2 linked regions of the Homo sapiens genome follow. The gene in region 1 interacts genetically with each later gene. Each region holds a gene or a part of one and is shown in the gene's direction. Other genes may lie near its edges.

What was found.
Region 2: of MAP3K7 (region 1) and TAB1, changing one enhances a phenotype caused by changing the other (phenotypic enhancement), as found in Homo sapiens cells (one study listed by BioGRID).

Annotation. Positions count from the first base shown.
Region 1 is NC_000006.12:90,513,746-90,517,572, reverse strand, and holds part of MAP3K7 (mitogen-activated protein kinase kinase kinase 7), read left to right. Parts: intron 1-891; coding exon 892-1,072; 3' UTR 1,073-3,827. UniProt on the Homo sapiens protein: Serine/threonine kinase which acts as an essential component of the MAP kinase signal transduction pathway. Plays an important role in the cascades of cellular responses evoked by changes in the environment.
Region 2 is NC_000022.11:39,409,541-39,413,367, forward strand, and holds part of TAB1 (TGF-beta-activated kinase 1 and MAP3K7-binding protein 1), read left to right. Parts: intron 1-3,827. UniProt on the Homo sapiens protein: Key adapter protein that plays an essential role in JNK and NF-kappa-B activation and proinflammatory cytokines production in response to stimulation with TLRs and cytokines.

The DNA of each region.
Region 1 (3,827 bases):
AAAAGCTTGATTTCTTATTTCACTTATTTAACCTATACTTTTGCCATACTTTAATCATTTGAAAGAAGTATTCTATGCTGGAAAAAACAAATGGTGGATTAGGGTGTTGGCTGTGAAAACTATGACAGTTTTAATCAATTTTAAATACTTTCAGAAGTAGTATTAGTTAGTTATTTTGCTTGAGGACTTTTTATTAATTATTCATTTATATCCAGTAACCTCACTTTAGGAAATGCCTAAAGATGCATCTTTTTCGGGAATACTTAATAGTTCCCAAATAAGAGGGACTTAAATAAGTTTATCAGACTATAAAAGAATGAGGGTCTTTCCTGAAAGTGCTTGCAAATGTAAGTGTTTTAAAAGAAGTGGTACTTTGTCATTTTTCTCACTGCTTTAAAATGGGAAAAAGCTTTAAATTGGATAGCATTTATTTTAATTAGATTGCAAATTTGCTATTAGCTTACCACTCTCTGCTATAGTTAAGTAGGATTGTGACTTCAGAATGTGAATCAGTATAAAAGTAGAATGTGAAGGATAAAAACTTCATGATATTTTCCCATAGCCACATAGAACCCTTCCCAGCCTTTTTTCATCCTTCCTACACAAAAAGAGGATAGAAAATGAAATTTTCTGAAACTTTTATTTTACCATTTTATCTGCTTCGCTAATTATCCAAGTACAGTTACTTAATAAAAGGATTATGTTATTTGTATGATTACACTAGAAGTAGATGAGAGTTCCATCCCAGCCCATAATTATATTTGATTAGTGTACCTAAGATGCAAAATGATAAACCAAGAATAAAAATTCTCATTAATTGAGCTTCCATCATCAGCTACTAAGGTATGAATTTTTCCATCATGTGTAATATTATGTGGTATTTGTTTGTAGGCAAGAACTAGTTGCAGAACTGGACCAGGATGAAAAGGACCAGCAAAATACATCTCGCCTGGTACAGGAACATAAAAAGCTTTTAGATGAAAACAAAAGCCTTTCTACTTACTACCAGCAATGCAAAAAACAACTAGAGGTCATCAGAAGTCAGCAGCAGAAACGACAAGGCACTTCATGATTCTCTGGGACCGTTACATTTTGAAATATGCAAAGAAAGACTTTTTTTTTAAGGAAAGGAAAACCTTATAATGACGATTCATGAGTGTTAGCTTTTTGGCGTGTTCTGAATGCCAACTGCCTATATTTGCTGCATTTTTTTCATTGTTTATTTTCCTTTTCTCATGGTGGACATACAATTTTACTGTTTCATTGCATAACATGGTAGCATCTGTGACTTGAATGAGCAGCACTTTGCAACTTCAAAACAGATGCAGTGAACTGTGGCTGTATATGCATGCTCATTGTGTGAAGGCTAGCCTAACAGAACAGGAGGTATCAAACTAGCTGCTATGTGCAAACAGCGTCCATTTTTTCATATTAGAGGTGGAACCTCAAGAATGACTTTATTCTTGTATCTCATCTCAAAATATTAATAATTTTTTTCCCAAAAGATGGTATATACCAAGTTAAAGACAGGGTATTATAAATTTAGAGTGATTGGTGGTATATTACGGAAATACGGAACCTTTAGGGATAGTTCCGTGTAAGGGCTTTGATGCCAGCATCCTTGGATCAGTACTGAACTCAGTTCCATCCGTAAAATATGTAAAGGTAAGTGGCAGCTGCTCTATTTAATGAAAGCAGTTTTACCGGATTTTGTTAGACTAAAATTTGATTGTGATACATTGAACAAAATGGAACTCATTTTTTTTTAAGGAGTAAAGATTTTTAATTCTGTGATTGTGTGTATGTGTGTTGAAACTGTAAAGCTTTTATGACTCTAATATTAATCTCTTAAATGAAATTAAAAGGCAAAAGAACATGATTGAGCTTAAATGATCATTTCTTCCTGCAGTGATTCTTGGATTGTTTTCTCATGTATTTGAAAAAAAAAAAATGAAGAAAAATAATGGAAAATGGAAGTAATTACTCCAGCTAAAAAAAGCTTGGACTTAGATTTCTTTTTATGATACCAAATGAGAAATAAACCAGGCAAATCAGAAGGAAGTTAAAGAAGCAAATATAAATTCAACAAGTGTCCTAATTATCCTGGATATTGGAATATTTGATTTTCCTTACAATCCCGTTCTAGAATGCCTGCCGCCTTTCAACACTTTCAAGAGAATTTCAACACTTACAGAGTATTTATATTGTTAACAGTAATTTTGCTACCAAAACCTTCAGAATAACTTTAATAATAAAATGACACTGAAATAATAGACTATACAAACTCTATATTTTTTCAGTTGGTGTTAAAATAAGTCACATTTTGATACCAGTACAAGATGTCTTTTAAATAAGGATGTCATCAGTCTGATTTTTATAGCATTAATGTTTTATGAAGAAAAAGTTCAAAATGAAAGCATTAATTGCTGTGATTATTAGAATTCTATCATGACTGTATTGTAGTTTTTGCTCTATTTCAGATAAGCAAGATCTAAGAAGTTATCAAAACTATTCTTTAAAATGCTAAAGCAGGTAACTTTTTCTTCCATTATTTTTTCCTCCTACCACTGAGTTTTGTAATGAATTCCTTGTGTATACAAGCAATACAGGTGAATACTAAACTGTTATTTTTAGCTTCTTCAAAAGCTATTTTAGAAAGCTTCCTGGAAATAAATGTCTTCTGTCATTTAATTTAAATAAAAGGAGTGTTAATTGTTCCCAAATTTGATTACCTAGCTGAAACAGATATTGGATTCAGCATAGTAATAGTAAAATAAAATTGGCAGAGAAAATAACTGTAGACTAGGATAAAGCATGACTCCTCCATAGCATTGTTGCTTGTATGTACATCTGTCACTCCACTGAAAGGGACCTAGTCACTTTAAAGAGGCCTTTTATCTCAGCACGAGATATCCAAGCGTGAATGCTAAGGCTTGATGTTTCCATTAGGATTTAGCATTCGAGATTTCAGATTTTATTTATAGTCATTGATGTGTTTTGCTGTATTATAACACATTTAAGGGAAATTTTATTATGGTTTTTACATGTAGTCATTTCATAAAAATATCCAGATAGGTAAATGGAAGAAAATAGTAGATTTTAGTCATGGTACCAAATGCAAGAGGCTGTTGAACAGTTGCTTGTTTGTTTACAGTAAGTTCCTTGAGATTTTCAGTACTGTAGTTGCCCTGGACATTGAGTACAGTTCAGCCTTACTCTGTTTTTAAGTAGTTGTGTTGTCAATTTCATGCTTTTAAGTCCTGATGATCCTTGGAGATGGGAGAAAAAGATACCAGGGATAATTAAAATCCACAGCCAGTTTCATCAGTTTCCTCATCCATCCTGCAAATAAAAATGTTAACAAGGAGCCAAACTTATTCGTTCTGGTTTTACAATTTATTTTGACCGTTTTTTGGGTGAAAATTGCAAACAGCCAAGCAAGTGGCTGGAATGCCCCAGTCTAAGAAATTCAAAAACAATCACTGAGTAAGCCCTAATTACATTAATTACATTTTACTCTTGACTCCAGGAAAAGAAAGCAAGCTTTTATCTAATCTAGAGGGAAGTATTCGTGAGCAATAAAAATCACTTTTTTGAGTTGAATAATAATCAGTTAAGAATATTTACCGCATAGCAACACAACATATAAAGATTTGTTACAAGTTGTTTACGGATGTTTGACTATTTTTGCTGAAGTATTTTAGAGTATTGAATGTCTTCTCTCTTCAAGTTTCTTTCATGTTCCTAATTTCAGCTCCTGTAGCCAGAGATCACAGGTCTTCCCTGTGAAACTTTGGTTTCTTTCTATAAATGTGTGTGGTTTTCAG
Region 2 (3,827 bases), on another chromosome or scaffold:
CCAGCCTTCTCGTGCTTCCGTAAACCTGACATGCTTTTTTCCATCTTAGGGTCTTTTTACGTTCCGCTCCCTCTGCCTGGAAGCCTCCTTCTCTGCCTTCTAGAAGGTCACTGCCCCATAGTCATTCAGGTCTGGCTCAGACGTCACCTCCCCAGAGAGGTCTGCTTTTCTGACCACTTCATCTAGAGGCCCCCACCGCCCATCACGCTGTGTCCCATTACCATGGTGTGTTTTCTTCCTAGCACGTAGCGCTGTCTGAGATTGCCTTATTATTGTATTGTGTGTTTGAATTCTCTCTCTCCCTAGAAGGGAGGCTTCAAATAAGGAGCCTCTCTGTTTTCTCTTCTGTGTCCGCAGTACCCAGAATACTGCCAGACTGTTGCAAATGCTCAGCAGATATTTATTGAAAGAATGTATGTAGTGATTTAATGTACTGTAATCACATAATATCATATGTGGGTCCGGAAGACCTAAGTTCCCATTTATGTTAAGAGAGGCATTAATTTTGCTTTAAAATGAAACAGTTCAAGATTAGAACTAGACCCAATTTTGTGTTACTGTGAAGCCGTTTTTCTTCTTCTTTTTGAGACTGAGTCTCACTCTGTCATCCAGGCTGGAGTGCAGTGGTGTGATCTCAGCTCACTGCAACCTCCACCTCCTGCATTCAAGTGATTCTCCTGCCTCAGCCTCCTGAGTAGTTGGAATTACAGGTGCGCACCACCACGCCTGGCTAATTTTTGTATTTTTAGTAGAGACAGGATTTTGCCACATTGCCCAGGCTAGTCTCAAACTCCTGACCTCAAGTGATCCACCTGCCTCAGCCTCCCCAAGTGCTGGGATTACAGGCGTGAGCCACTGTGCCAGGTCAGCAGTTTTTCTTTTGGCGTTGCTTGTACTGAAAGTGTTAAATTTAAGCCTGGTGTCATGAGGAGCTGAGCAGAATTGTTGCCATTTCTACTTTTTTTTTTTTTTAATTTAGTTGTGACATACTTGGCTCAGCTAGCACTTACTGCCATTTCATCTTCCTTTTTTTTTTCATTTCCATTAGTAGGGTTTGGTTATACTGTCTATTTTCAAAGGCTATTAGAAGGCGTTAGTAGCTTTTCAGACCTTGTAGTAAAATTGTGTTAATAAAAATAAATAAATAAAAGTCACCCAGTGAAGACATAAATAAGTGTAGAGACACACCATGTTAATGGATTAGAAGACTCAACATAGTGACAATGTCTACTTTCCCCAAATTGATCTGTAGATTTAAAGCAGTTCCAATAAAAATCCCAACAAGACTTGTGGATATAAGTAAGCTGATTCTAAAATTTATATGAAAAGGCAAAGGAACTCAAATAGCCAAAACAATTTTGAAAAAGAGCAAGAAGATAAGGAGACTCACACTAGCCAATTTAAAGACTTACTATAAAGCTACAGTAATCAAGAATGTAGTATTGGTGGAGGGGTAGACACATCGATCACAGGAACAGAATAGAGTCTAGAAGTAGACCCACACAATTCAATGGAGAAAAGCTAGTCTTTTCAACAAATGGTGTTGGAATGATTGGATATTGGAATGAAAAAAAAAATGGACCTAAACCTCCTTCCTACCTTACACAGAAATTAATTCAAAATGGATCACAGATCTAAATGTAAAATATAAAACTATAAAACTTTTAGAAAAAAACATAGGTGCTCTTTGTAACTTGGGACTGGACAGAGAGTTCTTAAACATGACTCCAAAAGCATGAACCATGAAAGAGAAAAAATGGATTAAATGGACTTCATCTAAACTAAAACCTTTGCTCTGCAAAAGACACTACTGAGTGAAATGCTAAGTTACAAATAAAAAGAACTCTCAGAACACAATAGTTAAGAAAATAACCTAATTTAAAAATAGGCAAAAAACTTGCACTTCACCAAAGAGGATGAGTTGGTGCCAAATAAACACGTGAAAGATACTCAGTGTCGTTAGCCGTTAGGAAGTGCAGATTAAAGTCACGATGAGCTACCACTACCCACCTCTTAGAATATCTAAATTCAGAAAAAGACAATACCACATGGTGGCAAGGACGTGGAGCAGCCGGAACTCAACATTGGAAATGCAAATGGTTCAGCTGCTCTGGAAAACAGTTTGGCAGGTTCTTATAAAGTTAAACATATACTTACCATATGAGCCAGCCCTGTCACTCCTAGGTATTTACCCTGGATAAATGAAAAGTTACATTCATACAAAAACCTGTACATGAATGTTTATAGCATATTTCTTCATAGTTATAAGAAACGAAACAGCCCAAATGTCCTTCAGTGGATGAATGGATAAACAAACTTTACTACATCCGAACAATGGTATATTACTCTATGAAAGAGAGAGAGAGACTGTTGATGCACACAGGCTAACAACTTGGATGAGTCTTAGAGACATAATGTTGAGTGAAAGAAGCCAGTCTCAGGAGGTCATGTTTACTGCATCATTTCATTTATGTGACATTGTGTGACATTGTTTTGTTTTGTTTTGTTTTGTTTGGAGACAGAGTCTCACTCCGTCGCCCAGGCTGGAGTGCAGTGGTGTGCAATCTCGGCTCATGGCAACCTCTGCCTCTCAGGTTCAGGTGATTCTCGTGCCTCAGCCTCTTGAGTAGCTGGAATTACAGGTGTGCGCCACCACGCCCGGCTGATTTTTGTATTTTCAGTAGAGACAGGGTTTCGCCACATTGGCCAGGCTGGTCTCAAATTCCTGGCCTCAAGTGATGAGCCCCTCTTGGCCTCCTAAAGTGCTGGGATTACAGGCGTGAGCCACTGCACCTGGCGTTTAATATGACATTCTTAAAAAGACAAAGCCATAGCAGTGGAAAATAGGTTGCCAGGGATTAGGGGAGGGAGTGCGTTGGGAGTGGAGCTGCCCTGTATCCTGAGAGTGGTGGTAGTTACACACATCTCTACATGTGTCAACATTCACAGATGTGCGTGCCCCAGAAGCCAGTTTTACTCCATGTTAATGTAAAAATAAAACAAACTCCCACACCCTGCAGAAGTTGCTCCAGGGTGCAAAATGTAGAGCTGAAGCACCAAAATAGATAAAAGCAGAATAAAACCAATTATATGAAAAAAAGTGAAGTCACTCCTGTCAGTATATAACTAAACAGAAGCTACAATTTGCCACAAAAGCTAACCACAGGCTTTTTATATATATGATTGCAAAAGCCTGTTGAAGTGGTTTCCACATCCTTTCTGGAAGACTTAACAATAACTTTTAAGAAGTTGCACACAGTATCTGTGTGTGTTTTATTTCTTTTACAGATGATTCACTGTTGGCATATAGAAATGCTACTGATTTTTGTATGTTGATTCCATATCCTGCAACTTTTTTTTTTTTTTTTTTTTTTGAGATGGAGTCTTTTTTTGAGATGGAGTCTCGCTCTGTCACCCAGGCTGGAGTGCAGTTGCACGATCTCGGCTCACTGCAAGCTCCGCCTCCCGGGTTCATGCCATTCTCCTGCCTCAGCCTCCAGAGTAGCTGGGACTACAGGCGCCCGCCACCACACCCGGCTAGTTTTTTGTATTTTTAGTAGAGATAGGGTTTCACCATGTTAGCCAGGATGGTCTCGATCTTCTGACCTCATGATCCACCTGCCTCAGCCTCCCAAAGTGCTGGGATTACAGGCTTGAGCCACCGCGCCCGGCCCATATCCTGCCACTTTACTGAATTTGTTTAATCAGTTCTAATAGTTTTTTGGTGGAATCTAGGTTTTTCCAAATATAAGATTATATCGTCTGCAAACAAGGATCATTTAACATCTTCCTTGCCAGTTTGGATGCCCTCTATTTCTTTCTCTTAT